Linked DNA regions of Homo sapiens: region 1 is linked to region 2. The links come from fine-mapping of genetic effects on gene expression. A gene starts in region 2. The other region holds a variant in brackets. All regions are shown on one strand. Distances are between the middles of the regions.

Region 1 (2,900 bases), 62 kb before region 2:
TTCAACATTCTCAGGCTCTCCTCTCTGTCTTCTCCTATAGGCAACCCATTGTCGAGTCCTGGCACCTGTACCTCAGTGGATCCCAACCCCAGATGGGATGGCAGGTGACATGTGACATATGAGCCAAGTATGTGGGGTGGGGGCAGAGGAGGATGGGAGGACACACGTTTCTTCTGGGTAGGACAGCTACCAGCTACGCAGCTCTACTTTCCACCAGCTAACTGTTGCTGTGTGAGGACACAGGCCCAGACCTGCCTATTTTTAAAGAAGATCTGCACATCTAGATTTATGTGAAAATTTTCCCATGTTTAAATGCTTGCAACCACTTGCATTTTTTGAAATCCCTATGTGCACCAAACAAAACATGTCTCTCTGTGACCTCTGGGCTTTGGTCTCTCTCTCCCACTGTTCCTTCTTTCCATTCCTACTGCCAAAATGTCCATGCCTCCCTCCTGGACAAGGGAACCCGCTCTTCCTGGGTTGCCCTAGCCAGCTTTCTCCCTTTACCCTTTGCTGGTCTCAAGGCCCCATTGAACAAATGTTGAGTTCTTTAGCTTCAAACTCAAGGCCCTCCAGAGAAAAAGAGAATAGTGAGGGTGAAGGAGACAGAGAAGAGAAGGCTGCTGCCACTCAGGGTGACAGAGCCATTAATTAACAGAGTTAAACATCTGGTGTTTAATTAACACTCTCCCTCCTCTTTCATTCTCCCTCCCTTTAACTTTCCCAGAGGGGCTCCACAGTGGGTGAAACTGAGCAGAAACCAGGAGAACAGCCTCCTGGCTGAGTCAGGGAGGGAGGGTGAGGAGGCTGGTGTTTGATTCCATGTGCTGGAGGGAAGAGGACAGTAGGGTAGCTTTGTGACTGGCTTACTTCAATTAGCATAATGTTCTCAAGGTTCATCTAAGGACAGACTAGGAAGAAGCAGCTTGACGTTTCAGTGGTAGGGACTGTCCAGAAGTTTCTTGGGCAGGAGCTGGGGGCAGGAGCTCAGTGCCTCGGATTATACAAGGAAGTCCCCAGCTCTCTTTGTGGCTAACATGATTGCCTCCCTGAAATTCATTCCCCCATTGTCTTCGATAATAAACTCCCACATTGCACAGAGTGGCAATGTTCCCAGCCTCAGGTGAGACACTTGCTTCTTCAGCCTCTTTTGAAGTTACAGGTGCCCAGGTCTGACCAAGGAGAAATAAGCAGAAGTCTGCTACAGGCTCTGGGAAGACATTTGTCTTCCTTACAAGAGATAGACTCAGTGGGCACCAATCCCTTTCCTTTCTCCACCTTCCTCCCTTGCATTTGAATGTGATGTCTTGAGCTATAGCAGCCCTGTTTTAACCATAAGACAAGAGACAAGCCAAGAGGGCAACAGAATACCTTGATGCTGTTGAGCCAGTGAGCAAAGACCAGCAGCTGCTGCCACTTCCGA[A/G]ACCTCTTGTGAAGTGATTAAATGAATCTCTCTGTTTAAAGTTATTGTAGATGGTGTTTTCTGTTACATGCATCCAAAAGCATTCCTAAGTGATACACTCCCTACCCTAAAACCTCTTCTCTCTAGGGAGATAAGTAAGTAACCACTTATTTAATTAGAGTGGGGTAAAGTGAAGAGCAGACATGCTGCTCAGAGCGCCTCCCAATCTGGATGGCCCAGGACCCAGGATTAAGAACTGGAAAGCAGATAGTAGAGTGGGCCATGGCTACATGAGATGGGAGCTCTGAGGGAGTCCTCTCAGAGTCTGCCAGACAGTGGGAGCTCAGCCGACACAGGTTTGTGTGGATACATGAATGGCTGGATGTGCCACTTCTTGGCACAGGTGGCCCAGCGACAACCAGCTGGAAGGAAGGGACCCTCCAGCAGCTAACTTGAATCTCTCTGATTCCAGACCCTTCTCAGAAGGCCATGCTGGAACACCTCTCCCCTTTAGAAGTTCCCTCCTCCTCCCCACTTCCCATGATGCCCCCCACACTCTTATTTGGCACTTAATCAAACCTCCCCATTTGCTCCAAATATGGCTCTTGGTTTGACTGCAAACCCTGGGAGGCAGATACCACTTCCTTTTTCAGCCTCCAGGACCTACCAGTGTCTTGAACACTGAAGACAGTTGATAAATGTTTTCATTTGAAGTTGATGCTTTGGAGGGTGCAAAGAGGTTTGTGACTTAAAGAGTTGCTCAGAGAAGAGCCCCTCCTAAAAAGAATAGTCCCAGAAGTCTGTAGTACTGCCTGAAATTGTACTATCAGACATGGACTACATTGACTAGCTGGGTCACCTTAAGTGAAACAACCACTCTCAGCAACAGTTTTGTGTGATGGGAGTGCCAACTCAGCATGGAAATTCATTGTAAGAATGTTTATTATTATTATTATTATTATTATTATTATTTTTTGAGACGGAGTCTCGCTCTATCACCCAGGCTGGAGTGCAGTGGCGTGATCTCAGCTCACTGCAAGCTCCGCCTCCTGGGTTCACGCCATTCTCCTGCCTCAGCCTCCCAAGTAGCTGGGACTACAGGCCCCCGCCACCGCGCCCAGCTAATTTTTTGTTTGCATTTTTAGTAGAGACGGGGTTTCACCATGTTAGCCAGGATGGTTTCGATCTCCTGACCTCGTGATCTGCCCGCCTCGGCCTCCCAAAGTGCTGGAATTACAGGCGTGAGCCACCACACCCGGCCTATTACTATTATTATTATTATTATTATTATTATTATTATTATTAGAGATGGAGTTTCACTCTTGTGGCCCAGGCTGGAATGCAATGGTGCTATCTTGGCTCAACACAACCTCTGCCTCCTGGGTTCAAGCGATTCTCCTGCCTCAGCCTCCTGAGTAGCTGGGATTGCAGGCGCCCGCCACCACATCCGGTTAATTTTGTATTTTTAGTAGAGACGGGGGTTTCTCCATGTTGGTCA
Region 2 (2,900 bases):
AGGAGTCGGCTCCGTTGGGCCGGGTTTTCTCGAGCCTCGCCTTCTTCCTCCGCCGGTCCGGCGACCACTTCCCTCTTGGCTCCCGCCCCGCGCGGGTCCCCGATCCCCTCTCCCGTCTGCATCCCTCTCTGTGCCCGAGCGCCCCCCGCTCCCTCCCTCCTCGCTGGATCTCCCGCAGGACGTGAGCGGAAAGTGAATGGGCAGCCCCAACCACAAAGACAAATTACCATGAGAAACATAAATCGGGAAATCGCCGCTCGCGTCCCTGCTTCCAGCTGCCGCACCCCTCTCCACCCTCCCAGCCGGGAGTGCGGGGCCCTGAGCCACTGCCCCTGGAGCCTGGTGGGCAGAGTTCACGCTCCGCAGGCCTGGTCAGGGCAAGAGTGTCCTGGAGGCGGGTCTGGGAAGAATCCGGGCGGCGGCTCCGCAGGCGGCGGCGGTGGAGCAGGGACGTCCCTGAGCGGGAGATTTCACACTCTGGGCGGGCCACGCGTTCCCACGCGCCTCGCCGCCCGCACTCTCCCTCAGTGCTGTTTACTAGCCGGCCCTCTCTGAGCCTCCATCTCCGCACCTCTGTCCCTCCGTCCCTCAGCCTCACTCGTCCGTCTCCTTCTCCAGGCCTGGGTCCCGGGTCCCCATCGCCGCTGCAGCCCAGATGCGCCGACCACAGCCCTGGCAGGGCCCAGTGCAACCCGGACCCAAGCTGGCTGGCGGCGGGAACGCAGCAGCGATGAGGGCTCTCAAGCCGAGGTGGCAGCGGGAGGCGCGGAAGCCAGGGGACCCCCTGTCCTCCCGCCCGCAGCCTCACCTACCTGGCTTCAACTTGCCAGAGCCCGGACCCCTACCTCTCTACCCCGATACCCACCCGAGTTGCTGAAGTTTGCAAGTTGCAGCCCCAACCCGCGCAGGGGAAGCGCCCGGGGCTCCCGGGACTCACCTCCCAGAGGCGGGTGCAGGTGCCCGGTTCCCCGCGGCTCCCGACTCCCGGGCGGCGCGGAGCGGCGGGAGCTAACCAGATGGGCTGGCGGCCGGTCTGGGAATGGGGCGGCCGCGCAGGAACGGCCTCCAGCTCTCAGCGCTCCGGTGCAGTCCCCACCCGGGCCCGCGCCCGCTGCGCTCGGGCTCCCAGCAGCCGCTGGATGCGCTGCCGACCCGCCCGGCTCGGCGGAGCTGGGCTCTGGCACCAACCCCCGCGCTCCAACTAGCTCCCGACCCGGCGCTCGGAGAGAGCAGGGAGGAGGAGACCGCGGGAGCAGAAGGAGGGAGGGGGCGGTGGGGGAGGAGTTGCAAGCAAAGGGAGAGAAGGAGGGGAGCGGGAGCGAAAAAGAGGAGGGGGCTGGAGCAGACCTGCCGCGGCGGGCGCTGCACCCGCCAGCCTCGAGGCGCGCGGAGGAGCGCGAGGGGGCGCCCTGCATCCCGCGGCTGCTCGGCCGACTCCCGCCCCGGGCCTGCCGAGTGTGGTGACCAGCCCGGTGGGCCGAAGCCCCTTCCCCGGCCGGCATTCCGGCGGCAAGACCTAGGACTCCGAGCACTTGCCGCCGTTTGCCACATCCCGCCTTGCCGTTCTCGGTCACCCCATCTCGAATGTGACATCCCCGAGGGCCATCGGCGCGGCCTGCCCACCCCAACACTCAGGGCCTGAGGAAGCTCCCCCAAACCCCACTCCGGACTCCCACATTCCCCAGCCCCGTCAGTTCGGAACGATCTTCCTGCCTGTGGATTTGAAGGGGAAGGGACCTCGTGTAAAACGGGGGAGAGCCGTTATAACCTGCAGCGGCAGAGAGGGAGGCTAGGCTGCTGGGCTGGGCTGGAAAGCCAGAACTGGCCGGATTAGGGTTAACCTTGCAAACTGTACGATACCGAGCGAACCTCTCCAAGCCTCAGTTTCCTCAGCTGTAAACTGGGGTTAGTAATACGCACCCTACAGAATTGTGAAGAACGAGTAGGGGATACGGGGAGTAAAATAACATCAGGAACAGTGGGAGGGCAGCCAAGAGATGAGCGATCCGGGGAGGTGGTGGAGCGTTCTCAGCTGAGGACGGAAGGTTTAGCGCAATCACAAGGAGCGAGGCCGAATTGTTTACAAGTTTAAGTGATCTAGTGTTTCTGATGGCTAGAAGGCGGGAGAGAAAGATTCAAGGGGCAAGCTTCAAATCCTAGCTGCCCGGGCTGCAAGAGGGATGGGAAGGGAGCCCTCTGCTGAACAAAAAATATATTTGAAAATGTAAAAAAAGGTGACCTAAGAACGAGTGAGAAAGACAAAGGATTTGAAAAATTAAAACCAGGAAAGTGTGATTCTAAGAGATAACCAAAGAGAACTATGAAATAAAAATAGATAAGTTGGAGGAAGGAAAATATCAAAAGACTTTCTAGAGTATGCCAAAAATTGGATAATTAGAACAAAGTCTGAGTGAAGCATTTTACATAATAAAATTCTGGGTAAAGGAAAACCCAGATAAAGCAGAAGAATTGAGACACTAAGAGCCCCAGAGAAGCACCTCCTGCCTGCCATCCTCCTACCCCTGGACCATGGCAAGAAGCAGTTTGACAGGATAATGGGAAAGAAAGGGTGGTTCTGAATCCAAGAAGGGAGTTTATGAGACACTGTAAAAAGAGAAACAGTGCAAGATCTCAAAGATAGACTTTCTAGGGCAACAGAAATGCTGAAACTCATAATGTGCAGAATGGAGAGAAACTTGCAAAGGGAAAACACGCTCTGGACACAAAGGCAGAGATGCAGAGAAGAAAAGAAAGGAAACGGGCATGTGTGGGCATACCAGTCTGGTAGCCCAGTCTGGGGTAAAAATCAAGTTGGAAGAGGCAGCATGGGATATTGAGTCCAAATCTATCATTTTATCAACAAGGACAATGAGCTCTGGACCATTCTCCCAGAGTCCCAG

What was found. PIP is the estimated chance that this variant, and not a neighbour inherited with it, causes the effect.
Region 1: its variant is fine-mapped to the expression of SEMA5B in gastroesophageal junction (GTEx, PIP above 0.99).

What each region holds. Positions count from the first base shown.
Region 1 is chr3:122,964,195-122,967,094 of GRCh38, forward strand. All of the region lies in intron 1 of SEMA5B (semaphorin 5B), which reads right to left. Among named protein-coding and RNA genes, the nearest start is that of SEMA5B, 62 kb to the right of the region's middle. The variant A/G (reference allele first, on the strand shown) is at 1,424.
Region 2 is chr3:123,026,527-123,029,426 of GRCh38, forward strand. SEMA5B (semaphorin 5B) reads right to left here and starts at 1,237. Exons shown (of 23, transcript NM_001031702.4): 1 at 938-1,237. RefSeq lists an enhancer at 1,841-2,348.